2 linked regions of the Homo sapiens genome follow. The protein of the gene in region 1 interacts with the protein of each later gene in a biochemical or structural test. Each region holds a gene or a part of one and is shown on either strand. Other genes may lie near its edges. The genes, in order: NAV1 and TRIO.

Region 1 (7,984 bases):
GATACAGATGTTTACAGATAAAGATGTTTAACAGCAGTATCTCCCTAATACCACAGACCTGATATTCCAAGCAATTGGCAGAGAAATGAATCCATTCAGCACAAATTTGGCCCCTCTACATGGCCACAGCACCTTAGATTTGGTTCACTTAACAGAAGAACAGTATGTTCTGTTTAGAAGCAGGACCCGATCCCAGGATAGGGTGAACTGCATAAACGGAGGCTCAATGAGAAATGATAAAAGTCTAAGAGGTTCTAGAAAAGAGAAATCTTTTTCTGGGCCTCATTACCAGTTATAGACATTTTTAGAAAAGGAGGGGGAGAATAGATGCAGAACGCGTCTAAAAATGAACAAAGATATGTTAATTTTAAGAATGGAGGTTGTTTACAGGGAGAGTAAATTGGTTTGTATAATTAGATTGATCCAAAAATTACCTTGCCTTTATAAAATACCTTTCTGTTAAGAAGATACAACGTTTTCTCTTGCCAGATAAAGGCAGAGTCTCTTCCTTTTGTAAAAGAACATCACCAAATTACAAGGAAGTTTAAGTCACACTTTGAGTTGCTGACAAACCTAGGACAAACCCCCAGGTTTTCTCCTTTTGGCTAGCCTATATACTGGTGCAGAGCCATTCTTGCATCAATGTGAAACATTTATTTTTTGCCTGGGCTTCTGTTTTAACGATTGACCTTCATCTCTCCTGTCCTGTAGCTGGGATGAAAGCAGCTCCATCAGTAGTGGACTCAGCGATGCCTCAGACAATCTCAGTTCAGAAGAATTCAATGCCAGCTCCTCACTCAACTCCCTCCCAAGTACTCCCACTGCTTCTCGCAGGAACTCAACAATAGTGGTACGTGAGTTTGCAAACACCCAAGCTGCCATCTCAAGATGAACCACAGGGCAAATGGCATTATCTGTGTATGGGGTTGCACGTACACACCCACTCCATGGGATTGGTTCTCATAGGCCTTTGGCCAGGTCATTTTAGAGTTGCCCCCACCCCCTCCCAAAAAAAGCTAAGGCTACTCACCCAAGACATTAGATGTTGTCATATTGTGTATACTTAGTGCCTACACCAATCTAGAGTGATACATGTAAGAGCTATTCCAACTGGAGAAAAAGAAACCCCGAGATATATGTCATCTGCTGTTGGAAACCCTAGGGGTATAGGTAGAAACCCTCAGTTTGACTTAATACTCTGAGATGAGCAGCGCCAGGTACTAACTAAAATCAATCCTGTCAGCTATCCAGTCTCCCATCTGCATAGAAGTATCTCACTCTGCCTTTTTCTCTTTTCTTTAGCTACGCACAGACTCAGAGAAGCGCTCACTGGCAGAAAGTGGGCTGAGCTGGTTTAGTGAATCAGAGGAGAAAGCCCCTAAAAAACTGGAGTACGACAGTGGTAGCCTGAAGATGGAACCTGGGACTTCTAAGTGGCGGAGGGAGCGGCCTGAGAGCTGTGATGATTCATCCAAGGGTGGAGAACTGAAAAAGCCCATCAGCCTGGGCCACCCTGGTTCCCTGAAGAAGGGCAAGACCCCACCTGTGGCTGTAACTTCCCCCATCACTCACACAGCCCAGAGTGCCCTCAAAGTCGCAGGTGAGCCTGGAATAAAGGAAGGTACAAGGGCAAAGACCTAGTTCTTTGGTTGCTCCTCTTCTTAGTGGTCATTAACCCATAGGATGATAGCAAACATTTGCATAGTGCTTTAACAGACATTATCTTATCTGGTCTAAGGACAGTCCCGTGAGTTAGGAAAGATGGGTGTTATTATTTCCATTTTACAAATGTGGAGGAAATAGAAACTCAAAGAGATTAAGTGGCTGGGCCAAAATCCCAGTTAATATGAGGTACAGGAGGAAGTATATTATGTTTAGAGACTAGTTTGGCCTCCTTCCAAACACTTCCAATGCTTGCTTTCTTCTTTCTCCCAAGTTAGTCACTCAAGGCACTTATTTTCATAGGATACAGCTTGACATCTCAGGAAGATCCTAAGAAAACAATAAATAAAATGGCTACAGCAAGAGAATTATAGTGCCCCCAAAGTTGGCCCCTTGGGTAACTTTTAGCCTTAATCAACATTTTCCTGTAGTCTCTAATTACTAAGAGATATTGTCATACTCTATTCCATTTGCTTCCCCACCTTTTTTTTCCCTTCCACAACTAGTTGTTAGATGGATATTCTTGATCATCTTTGTGTTTGCCTCTGCCTTTTTAATCAAAATGGACCATTCTACTCTGGGAGCAAAACAAAAAAAATTCCTAGCCTCCCCACCCCTCCCAGCCAGAGTCTTTCAGACAAGAAACTTTATCAGCTTATCTTGTACCTGTTTACCCAAATTTAGGCCTCTAAAAGTCTACAATACATGGACAATGTTCCCTTCTCCCATGGAGGGAAAGAAAAGGGTGGGTTTTTAAGATACTGGTCAGTTTCAGCTCTTTTCTCATTTCCCGTCCTCTTGCAGGCAAACCTGAGGGCAAAGCTACAGACAAGGGTAAGCTTGCAGTGAAGAATACTGGGCTCCAACGCTCCTCCTCTGATGCTGGTCGGGACCGCCTGAGTGATGCTAAGAAGCCCCCCTCGGGCATTGCTCGCCCCTCCACTTCGGGATCCTTTGGCTACAAGAAGCCTCCTCCTGCCACAGGCACAGCCACTGTCATGCAAACTGGTGGTTCAGCCACTCTCAGCAAGATCCAGAAGTCCTCAGGCATCCCTGTCAAGCCAGTAAATGGGCGCAAGACTAGCTTAGATGTTTCCAACAGTGCAGAGCCAGGATTCCTGGCTCCTGGAGCCCGTTCTAACATCCAGTACCGCAGCCTGCCCCGGCCAGCCAAGTCAAGTTCTATGAGCGTGACCGGCGGGCGGGGTGGACCTCGCCCTGTGAGCAGCAGCATTGACCCCAGTCTCCTCAGCACCAAGCAGGGAGGCCTTACGCCTTCCAGACTGAAGGAGCCTACCAAGGTAGCCAGTGGGCGGACCACTCCAGCCCCTGTCAATCAGACAGATCGGGAAAAGGAGAAGGCCAAAGCCAAGGCAGTGGCCTTGGACTCAGACAACATCTCCTTGAAGAGTATTGGCTCCCCAGAAAGTACTCCCAAGAACCAAGCAAGCCACCCCACAGCCACCAAGCTGGCAGAGCTGCCACCAACCCCTCTCAGGTACCCAATGTGGGCAGCCGCCTCCTTGTCTGTTTGCTTTGTCATTCTTTCGCATATCTCTGCCCTCCTTGGACTAGATGAGGCATGGCCTATCCACCGTTGTCTCTAGGCCTTTGCATGGCTCTTTCCCACCTCTCCCCCATATGCCAAGGTTCTGAAAGAATCTAGTTTCTGACAGTTCTGAAAGACTGAATCCCTCTTTCAAAACTTACCTCATTTGTACTATTCTCTGATCAATGCTTACCCTGTCTTCAGCACTTGTATGGGTGTTTTTACTGTTTATTTACACATATATACCTATTTGCATAAATTCACTTGTATCTCCCATGTGCATATGCTGGCCCCTTATCTAAGCTGAATGTGCCCCAAGTTGGGTATCAGATTTCCTTGCATTGTATTTCACAACAGCATTAGGATAAGCCTCTGTGCTTAGCAAATAGGCAGAAAACAAGACTGGATAGGATTTCTTTAAGGTCCTATCTGCCTCTCACTCTGTAATTCTATTATTCTAAATATTTCGTTTGATCTTCTCTCAGGGCCACAGCGAAGAGCTTTGTCAAACCACCCTCACTAGCCAATCTTGACAAGGTCAACTCCAACAGTCTGGATCTACCATCATCCAGTGATACCACCCATGCTTCAAAGGTCCCAGATCTGCATGCTACAAGCTCAGCATCTGGGGGCCCTCTCCCTTCCTGCTTCACCCCCAGTCCGGCACCCATCCTCAATATTAACTCAGCCAGCTTCTCCCAGGGCCTGGAGCTAATGAGTGGTTTCAGTGTGCCAAAAGAGACCCGCATGTACCCCAAACTCTCAGGCCTGCACAGGAGCATGGAGTCCCTCCAGATGCCAATGAGCCTCCCCAGTGCCTTCCCCAGCAGTACTCCCGTCCCCACCCCACCTGCTCCCCCTGCTGCTCCCACAGAAGAAGAGACGGAAGAGCTGACTTGGAGTGGAAGCCCCAGAGCTGGGCAACTGGACAGGTAGGTAGAAAAGACAGCAGAACCTCGGCCTGTCTCCGTGTCTTGGGCTCATTTTGCCATTGGCAATACTATCCTATATTTTATTGCCATTTTGTGACTTTTGACATTTTTTCACATATATTAAGTAATTTAATTTGCTTCACAACAACTCCATGAGATAGGTAAGATGTGTTTTTGTTTTTAAATTATTATTCTTATATTAAAAATGAAGAAACTTGTGCACAAAGAAGTTAAATGACTCATCCAAGATCTCATAATTAGGTTAACCTATCATCCAGAGCTTTTGCTTCCTAGTCCAAAATCATTTTGTTTTGTTTTGTTTGAGATGGAGTTTTGCTCTTGTTGCCCAGGCTGGAGTGCAGTGGTGCAGTCTTGGCTCACTGCAATCTCTGCCTCCCAGGTTCAAGCAGTTCTCCTGCTTCAGCCTGCTAAGTAGCTGGGATTACAGGCACTTGCCACCATGCACGGCTAATTTTTGTATTTTTAGTAGAGACCAGGTTTCACCATGTTGGCCAGGCTGGTCTTGAACTCCTGACCTCAAGTGATCTGCCTACATCAGCTTCCCAAAGTGCTGGGATTACAGGCATGAGCCACCACACCTGGCTGCCCAGAATCTTTTCTTTTATATCACATCCTAGTTTTCCCCTCCCTTCCCCCTATATGCCAAGGTTATCAAACTACCTATATGGTAGTTTTTACCTACCATAATACGATCTATTTTTTTTTTTTTTTTGAGATGGGGTCTCACTATGTTGCCCAGACTGGACTCAAAACTCCTTGGCTTAAGCAATCCTCCTGCCTCAGCCTCCCGGGAGCTGCAACTACAGGCTCATGCCACTGTCCCTAGTGCCATAATATGATCTTTTAAATAACTAACTATGCCTTAATTTCTTTTTTGTTTGTTTGTTTTTTGTTGTTGTTGTTGTTGTTTTGAGACGGAGTCTTGCTCTGTCGCCCAGGCTGGAGTGCAGTGGCGCGATCTTGGCTCACTTGCAAGTTCCACCTCCTGGGTTCATGCCATTCTCCTGCCTCAGCCTCCCGAGTAGCTGGGGACTACAGGCGCCCACCACTGCGTCTGGCTAATTTTTTGTATTTTTAGTAGAGACGAGGTTTCACCGTGTTAGCCAGGATGGTCTCGATCTCCCGACCTCGTGATCCACCCGCCTTGGCCTGCCAAAGTGCTGGGATTACAGGCGTGAGCTACGGCGCCCGGCCTAACCATGACTTAATTTCTAATCAGAGAAATAACATTTAATATTTCAGATAAATTTCCCAAGTTGTAAGCCAAGAAGCAGGCTATAGTATCTCTTGGTTTCTAGAGCTAAAGCAGGTCATAGTTTGATGTCCTGCGTCTAGGGTCTGCATACCTCACACCAATGGTCCTAAACTCTAGTTCCTAAGATGGACCCACATGCTTCTCTCTCTCTCTCTTTTTTTTTTTTTTTTTATCTCCACAGTAATCAGCGGGATCGGAACACTCTTCCCAAGAAAGGGCTCAGGTAACCCTTTAATGTGTTTTTTCTTCCCTATAAATGGGACTGCTGGTATGTATGAAAAATCATATCTCAACCTGTCCAAGGCTCCAGTCATGAATTTAGTCACCCTTTTAGCTGAATCATTTGTATGTGGTCCCATACAAGTACCACCTAGTACCTTGCCCAAGCTTAATATTATGTGAGTCAACTTTTACAGCAAGTGTTCTTTTTTTGGTGACAGGGGAGAAACAAGTTTGCACATGGGAATCATGCACTTACCTGTACTAGCCTATGCCATCCCAATCCTGGCTGAGCTTCATCTCTGTAATTTTCTTCCCTAAAAGTATGAGGGAGAACAGTCTGCTTCTTTGGTCACTCAGCTGGGCTAGGGGCAGGACCTACCTGGTCATCCACTGTTCTGACAGCACTGAGTTGTTCAGTTGGGTGGCAACTATTGCAACTTTTTTTTTTTTTTTTTTTTTTGAGACGGAGTCTCGCTCTGTCACCCAGGCTGGAGTGCAGTGGCACAATCTCAGCTCACTGCAACCTCCACCTCCCAGATTCAAGCGATTCTCCTGCCTCAGCCTCCCGAGTAGCTGGGGTTATAGGTGTGCACCACCAAGCCTGGCTAAATTTTGTATTTTTAGTAGAGATGGGGTTTCACCATGTTGGCCAGGCTGGTCTCAAACTCCTGACCTCAAGTGATCCACCCACCTCAGCCTCCCAAAGTGCTGGGATTACAGGCATGAGCCACTGTGCCTGACCGACTCTTGCAACTTGAAAGCCCACATGTGGAATCATAAGTCTCTGTCCTGAACTTCTGAGGAGAAGTTCTAATGCCTCCTCCATCACTTCTGCCCCCAGCTCAGGAACCCTTACGGGAATACCTGCTAGTCCTTCCACACCCTCTGGATGGTCTGGGAGAGGAGGCTGAGTCGCCACCTCTTACTCCCTCCTTGGGCAGCCCTGACCACTCCCTCTTTTCCATGTCCTGCTTTCAGAATCTCCTGGCTCCAGCCTAGTTCAGACACCCTCCGCACCAACTAAACCTCTGACCGCACTTGCTAGTCCCAGACTGAGTTCTTCTGCTGCTTCCTACAGGTACCAGCTTCAGTCCCAGGAGGAGACCAAGGAGAGGCGACATTCCCATACCATTGGTGGGCTGCCTGAATCCGATGACCAGTCAGAGCTGCCTTCTCCCCCTGCACTTCCCATGTCTCTGAGTGCAAAGGGCCAACTTACCAACATAGGTTAGTGTTTTCAGTCACTCACTGTGGCATGGGGTGAAGCAGGGGTCACCCTGCAGGGTGAGGCAAGGCAGGTGGGCTTTGGGTTTCATCTCATGTTTGACTCATGCTGTATTGGGTTGTTTCATGGTGCCTCAGTTTATCCACCCAAAGTAAGATTGAAGGTAGAGTACTTTGAGATCCTAAACTGAAAAGTTGCCCCTAGGCACAAGTTGTAGGGTCCTTTTAGCATCAGAGAGCCTGAATGGTGGCATGGAAAAGCTGTAACCCAAAGCCCAGAGATCAGACCAGTGCAAGAGCAGGCACATTGAACTGCCGGAAAGGAGCCACCACACCCAGTACTACTAGGGCCAGCTAATGAGAGGGCAATACTGAAATGTCAGGCCGACGGGGAGGAAGGAGGGAAAGGTTGTTGATTGCCAAGGACGAGATCTGCCTCCAAACTCAGCCAAGTCCAGATTCCTCAACTGCTCTGGCTGAGCCCAGGCCATCCTAACGCTGAAGGCAGGGCTGACTCAGATGTGTCCTGGCCACCCCCTTCCTAAAGCCTAGGGAGAAAGGAGAGCTAGGAAATAAGGAAGTGACTTAGAGACAGGGAGGAGAGGAAGCATCAGGTGGAGGGTCTGGCCTAGCACAGAAGCACACCAGCTCCGGTTCTGTGAAGCAGTACGCCATGATTGGCCTACTAGGAATCCATTCAGGAATAGTGCCTGGGATAGGCCTGTTATCTGCTTGCTGCATCTCTTTAAATCCATCTCTTCTTTCAGCTGAGTAAAAGAAATCAGTTAATAAAAGACAAGGACCTGTAACACACCCATGCAGTGACTGTGGGGAATTTGAGGAAAGACTAGGAATTGGGATCACTTGGCCTAGGGAAAAGAACCATTGTTCAGACAGGATCATCTGCCCTCTGAAGGGCTACTAAATGGAGGATGGGGCCAGCTTGTTCTCTATCTCCATTGAAGACCAAATAAGAAGAATTGCATTTATGCTGCAGAATGAGGGGCTGGGCTAAGCAATAATTACCTCAGGAATTTGAAAAGGTCAACAGAGAGGTGTGCCATCTTCTTCTGCACAGGTCTTTATGGACAGATTAGACATCCACCTGCCTGTATGGAG
Region 2 (7,000 bases), on another chromosome or scaffold:
AACATAAGAAAGTTCTCATCATTGCCAGCCATGCTAGTGGGGGGTCATTTTCAGCACCTGGGGTGCTGGGAGTCCTGGGGTAACTGCCGTCCACAGGTCTCAGACTGTCCCCAGTCTGGGTTTTGTTGCAGGCTGTCAGGGTTTTGTACTCACCCGATGCTCCCTGGAGACCTTTGCTCGCAGGAGTGACTGGAGGAGTTCATGTAATCAATTAATGCACCAAAGTCAGGAGAAATGGGCATGGTGACCGTTGTTTTCCTGAAAAGAAGACGGGATGCAAAACCATTAATACAAAATTGAAATCTTAACAGGTTTTGCAGGTTGAACATGAAGCGTGTATAGCCTGGGTCTCTTCCTTTATGGTACAAGGGAGGGACGAGAAGGAGCTGAGCACAGTGTGCTCCTTCCCCTGCCTCCGCACGTGTCCAGCAGGGGAGGGAAGCTGGGTCTGTGGCACCCAGTGGGACTCTGACCAGGCAGAGTGGCAAGAGATGTAACCCGTCTTCAGCCATGTTTTCTTTCTCTGCAGCGAGGAGGTCTGCAAGCGTGGCTTCACGGTGATCGTGGACATGCGTGGGTCCAAGTGGGACTCCATCAAGCCCCTTCTGAAGATCCTGCAGGAGTCCTTCCCCTGCTGCATCCATGTGGCCCTGATCATCAAGCCAGACAACTTCTGGCAGAAACAGAGGACTAATTTTGGCAGTTCTAAATTTGAATTTGAGGTAACTTCCCCCGTGTGGCTAGACCCACTAAACAAGTTGGTGTGGTTTACTAAAAGCTATTGAGGCTAATGAGAGATTTTTTTTTTAAACCACATATTAAACAGGAGCTGCATATCTTACGAACATGTGATACGTAAAATTAGTTACTGCATGAAATAACAGAGCTGCGTTCATCATCCGAGTGGATTGTTTTACCCACATGGGCTTAGGTTTCAGTTCCCTTGGGTTGGGTGATGGGCTGTTGAGTTGTGAGGCCTTGGCAGAGAAGCTTGCTGGCTGCCTTATATTTCACTTGACAAACAGCTTTACCAGGCAGCACTGTGGCTTTGCACAGTTACAGATTCATTCTCCTTGCCTCAGCCCTGGAGATGAGGGAATGTTAGGGAGAAATGCCCAACTTCAGAGTCCCTAAGTTTCATCCTGTCATGGATAATGGAAAGAATGCATGTATTAGGCCTCTGATTTCTGAAAATGGAGATAGTGTGTTAAAAACTGTGCAGAGTCCTGAATTCAGTTAGGCATGGAAGATTGCCGTCTTTCAGTGGTAAAAACAAGACAAAACCCTCAGCCCACTAATTATTTTGCTTCCCACTGTAACCTCCTCTCCTTAAGCTACCAAGGTTCTGACAAGGCCTTCGGTGCAGTTAGTTTAATGAGATGATTATGGGAGGAAAGTCTTCCTGCCAGCATGAAACTTGATTCTTGCTCCATTTGGAATAAGATTTTAATATTTTCTAATAAGAAATACTTTTTGGTTGAATAGATTGCTTCCTCTGGCAAATCTGCTCAAACGTTAGGTTTCAGTGGATGTATTCATGTATTTTAAGGTAAACAGCAATAATATTAAACATCAGACAGTGTTAATCCTTAATCTTCAGGTTATAATGCTATACTTTTCAAAGTGTTTGCACAGGTGTATTACTTGGATTTTTAAATTCTTTCCATAGTACTCATTTTTCTATCCAAAATATGAACTTAGTTTTAAATTTGAAACTACTCAGGTTTACTACACTCCATCAGAAAGATGAACCCAGTAAGCCTTTATCTTCATAGAGAATAGGAAGTAATTTTGGAGGACAGTTTATTGGGTGTTAATTATTTTCTTGATGCAGAATTGAAAGTGCATTGTATTTAATTATAAGTGTTTTAAGTAAAAATAATGGTCTGGCAATACAATTCATACAGGTTTTTCCAGTCCAGTTTTGATCTCTCCCTCAGGGCTCTTAAAGGCACCAGTTTTTCTATGGAACTTGTTACATTGTTACCAGCCTCTCTCTCCCCACCCAGTGATTGCCTCTGTGGAGATTATTAAAAGTCCAGCAGGACCGGGTGTGGTGGCTCACGCCTGTAATCCTAGCACTTTGGGAGGCCGAGGCGGGCGGACCACGAGGTCAGGAGATTGAGACCATCCTGGCTAACACGGTGAAACCCCATCTCTACTAAAATACAAAAAATTAGCCGGGCGTGGTGGCAGGCACCTGTAGTCCCAGCTACTTGGGAGGCTGAGGCAGGAGAATGGCGTGAACCTGGGAGGCAGAGCTTGCAGTGAGCCGAGATTGTGCCGCTGCACTCCAGCCTGGGCAACAGAGCGAGATTCCGCCTCAAAAAAAAAAAAAGTCCAGCAAACGAGAGAGGAATGGGCCTATGGTAGGATTGTAGGCATAAGTGCTGGATCAGGAGTCATCCCTCTTCTACCTCTGCTGCCTTCTGATGTTTCTTTTGCCAACCAGCACGCCGGACCAGCCCTTCTTGTTTTCTCTTTTGGTTCTAGGTCACAACTCTTTCTCCTTCACCTTTGTCTTTGCATTTAATCTTCCCCCTCCATGTTTTCCTTGAGGCATATTAATATTAATCTGCTTCACATCATGATAAGGTGAGGTTAAGATTTCTTGCCGAGGCCAGGCACAGTGGCTCATGCCTGTAATCCCAGCACTTTGAGATTCTAAGGGAGGAGGACTGCTTGAGGCTGGGAGTTCGAGCCCAGCCTGAGAAACTTAGCAAGAGCCTGTCTCTATATTTTGTTTTAAAAATTAGCCAGGTGTGGCCGGGCGCGGTGGCTCATGCCTGTAATCCCAGCACTTTGGAAGGCCGAGGCGGGCGGATCACAAGGTCAGGAGTTCGAGACAACCTGGCCAACATGGTGAAACTCCATCTCTACTAAAAATACAAAAATTAGCTGAGCGTGGTGTAAGTCACCTGTAATCCCAGCTACTCGGGAGGCTGAGGCAGGAGAATCACTTGAAATCGGAAGGTGTAGGTTGCAGTGAGCTGAGGTTGCACCACTGCACTGCAGCATGGGCAACAAGAGCAAAACCCTGTCTCAAAAAACAAACAAACAAAAATCACCAGGTGTGGTGGCACACGTGTAATTCCAGCTACTCAAGAGGCTTAAGATGGGAGGATGGCTTGAGCCCAGGAATTTAAGCTTACAGCATGTAATCATCGCCACACTCCAGTCTGGAAGACAGAGCATGACCCTTTTTTTCCTTTTTTAAAAAAAAAGGTCGTGTGCGATGTCTCATGCCTGTAATCCCAGCACTTTGGGAGGCTGAAGTGGGTGGATCATTTGAGATCAGGAATTTGAAACCAGCGTGACCAACATGGTGAAACCCCGTCTCTACTAAAAATACAAAAGAATTAGCCTGGTGTGGTGGTGGGCACCTGTAGTCCCAGCTACTCGGGAGGCTGAGGCAGGAGATCACTTGAACCTGGGAGGCAGAGGTTGCAGTAAGCTGAGACTGCGCCACTGCACTCCAGCCTGGGTGACAGAGCAAGACTCCATCTCAAAAAAAAATAATAATAATAAATATAAAGATTTCTTGCTTAGACTGTAATTGACTAAAACTTTGTCACTGTTAAATTGCAATGTAGTACAGATTATATACAACTCTAGGACTGTTCAGAATCACAGCAGATTATTGCAATGAATAAAACATTGCCTCTATCCTTAGCTCTGTCAAATGAGCCTCTGCCAGCTTTCTTGCCAACTCTTGAATATTTTCTAAATTTTTATAAATTCATTCATATCCCATCATCTGTTATTTGATGGGCAGTGGGGTTAGGCTTAGGCAAGATGAATGATAGGGTGGTCTGGTTGGAGCAGCATTCATCGTTTAATAGGCAGCCCACACGTAATTGAATTTAGAGTGATGTTACACTTAAAAGGGTTTTGATGCCCTTGAGCAAGACGTTTGTGTAATAGCAAGTAGTAGAAAACCTCCACAGAGTTTCTGGCATGGATGAAAAAGAATGGGGAGAAGAATGCATTGATGTAAGTGAAATTTCTGAATTGTTTGCTCTGAACTTGCAATTTAACCTGTTTCCTAGTTTAATGTGTCTGTTATAGTGGGTTAATCTCCATCTTCTTGGAAAGAAATCTCATTTCTTTAGCTCTCATGAAATACACGATTCTACAGTTTTGGGTATTCCAGCTGACATATATGTGTTGCTATAATGGATTTGTCTTTCATTGTACTGATAATGCTTCTTTCATCTACATTTATTTTTATGGGGCCAGAACCAGGTATGTTATGTTTTCTATAAATAGATTACTTTAACTTTGAAAACCTGTGACTGAGCATTGCAAATTGCATTATGTTAAAACTATATAAAATTGGTTCATCTTCTCATACGTGATTTTTTTTCCCTTAAGACAAATATGGTCTCTTTAGAAGGCCTTACCAAAGTAGTTGATCCTTCTCAGCTAACTCCTGAGTTTGATGGCTGCCTGGAATACAACCACGAAGAATGGATTGAAATCAGAGTTGCTTTTGAAGACTACATTAGCAATGCCACCCACATGCTGTCTCGGCTGGAGGAACTTCAGGACATCCTAGCTAAGAAGGAGCTGCCTCAGGATTTAGAGGGGGCTCGGAATATGATCGAGGAACATTCTCAGCTGAAGAAGAAGGTGATTAAGGCCCCCATCGAGGACCTGGATTTGGAGGGACAGAAGCTGCTTCAGAGGATACAGAGCAGTGAAAGCTTTCCCAAAAAGAACTCAGGCTCAGGCAATGCGGACCTGCAGAACCTCTTGCCCAAGGTGTCCACCATGCTGGACCGGCTGCACTCGACACGGCAGCATCTGCACCAGATGTGGCATGTGAGGAAGCTGAAGCTGGACCAGTGCTTCCAGCTGAGGCTGTTTGAACAGGATGCTGAGAAGGTAAAGACGGGGGAGGCTAATGCCTCAGTGGACATGGGGGAAGCCAGCGCTGGTGGGTTCGGGTGGAAGGAAAGAGAAAAGGTGGAGAATGGTAAGGCTATACTCACCGTGTGTGCTCTAAACCAGCGAGAGTCATTTCAGAAATGGCACTGAAATCTGTTTTCCGGTTTTACTCGTTGTGCAATACAGTGCTGTTTTAGAAATTTTGAGTTCAAATTACTTATTCTTTGGTCTAGGATGCCTGTAAGATAGGAATGATATTTTCACTTAAAAGAGTGAACATTTCGGCCGTGCTCACGCCTGTAATCCCAGCCCTTTGGGAGGCCGAGGTGGGCTGATCACCTGAGGTCAGGAGATTGAGACCAGTCTGGCCAACATAGTGAAACCCCGTCTCTACTAAAAATACGAAAATTAGCCGGGTGTGGTGGCACGCGCCTGTAATCCCAGCTACTCAGGAGGCTGAGGCAGGAGAATCGCTTGAACCCATGAGGCAGAGGTTGCAGTGAGCCAAGATCGTGCCATTGCATTTCGGCCTGGGCGACAGAGTGAGACTCCGTCTTAAAAAAAAAAAAAAAAAAAAAAAAAAAAGTGAAAATTTCACAGGGTTATGTTATTGACAAAACACCATTCCAATCTATTGAGTATGTTTTTTAAAATCAAGATGAGTAATGTGTTAAAAGTAACAGTTTCTGGGTAATATAGTTGGTAATCACCTCTAGTCTCATGTTTTATTCTTATGCACCAGGCAGACCAACTGGTCAAAGTGAATCCTTATCAATTACTGGCTAATTGAATCTTAGCAATGTGGAAACTGGGCACTTACCCATAGGTATGTGTTGCAAGCCATGAACATGGGTGAATTAATCATTGAGTTTTATTGGAGCTCATTGAATTTTATATTACATGGACAGGAGAATATTTTGTAAAGTAAAAAACCACATTAGAATTCTTGGATGTAAAAGGACTTTTCAAAAGGTGATAATCCAGTGTTTTTATTACTAAAGCTTTTAATGTATCTGTCAGTGTTCTTTTGTTTTAAGTAGCACCTTGTCTAAGAGACTGGAATACCTTCTTTTCAATTACTGGAAGACCAGGTTACTGTCACTGGGATTCTGGTTCAAGTCATGGTAGCAATGCTAATTGATGATAGTCATCTATATTTTCTTAAATGTTTTCATTGCAAATGTCTTAATTGACATCCTTGTCCAAGTAACATCTATATTGAACCTTAAGGGAGATGTCATAGTTAGTTTTTCCCACCTTTTTTATAGTAAATTTTATGTTTTTGCAATCTGCACAGGTGTCTGTGTACTTCTTGATCAAACAGTGGAATCTTTTAGTCATTGATATTTCTGTCAGTAACCTGTGGGCACAGCAGAACCCATCCAGAGACCCATAAGTTCCTAATTTCACCCTAACGGGTCTTTAATTGAACCTCACTGTGGCAAATTAAGTAGTTCAGCGTGGCAGGGAGACTGGGCTGAGAGTCAGAGGATCAGAGTTTTTAATCAGCCTGGGGGATTAGAGTAACTCTCTTTACTTATCTGCTTCTTAATTCCTTCTCTGTAAGAGGAACACATCAGATAAGATTTTCTGGTAGGTCCTGCAAGTTCAGAACTGCTGACTTGTTCTTCGAAGTAAAGACTCTTCTGAGAGAATCAGACAGCGCTTGAAGTTGTCCAGGGAAGGAAGTTGCCCTTTCTTGGTACTGCCCCATCTGTGGGCTTGTGTCAGTAATTTCTCTTTCTGGAGTGATTGCGGGTTGTCTTTTTCCTTCCGGTAGATGTTTGACTGGATCACACACAACAAAGGCCTGTTTCTAAACAGCTACACAGAGATTGGGACCAGCCACCCTCATGCCATGGAGCTTCAGACGCAGCACAATCACTTTGCCATGAACTGTATGGTAAGACACTCGGAACAGCTGGACCCTGGCATGTGACAGTGTTTTAGCAAATGGGAGGCATTTGGCAAATTGTATGCTAGGGCTTTCAAGGGGCCTTCGGAGTGGCTGTTGATTGTAGCAGCTGACCTTCACATGGAGGGTGTTCCCTAGGGTTCCATTGTCTCACTATCCCACATTTTAAGTTTTAAACAAAAATGAAAACAAGCA

Evidence for each region.
Region 2: the proteins of NAV1 (region 1) and TRIO form a complex in vitro, tested with the Homo sapiens proteins (one study listed by BioGRID).

The regions. Positions count from the first base shown.
Region 1 is NC_000001.11:201,779,710-201,787,693, forward strand, and holds part of NAV1 (neuron navigator 1), read left to right. Parts: intron 1-711; coding exon 712-850; intron 851-1,302; coding exon 1,303-1,600; intron 1,601-2,466; coding exon 2,467-3,160; intron 3,161-3,696; coding exon 3,697-4,143; intron 4,144-5,600; coding exon 5,601-5,642; intron 5,643-6,719; coding exon 6,720-6,868; intron 6,869-7,984. UniProt on the Homo sapiens protein: May be involved in neuronal migration.
Region 2 is NC_000005.10:14,286,342-14,293,341, forward strand, and holds part of TRIO (triple functional domain protein), read left to right. Parts: intron 1-529; coding exon 530-722; intron 723-4,374; coding exon 4,375-4,887; intron 4,888-6,670; coding exon 6,671-6,793; intron 6,794-7,000. UniProt on the Homo sapiens protein: Guanine nucleotide exchange factor (GEF) for RHOA and RAC1 GTPases. Involved in coordinating actin remodeling, which is necessary for cell migration and growth. Plays a key role in the regulation of neurite outgrowth and lamellipodia formation.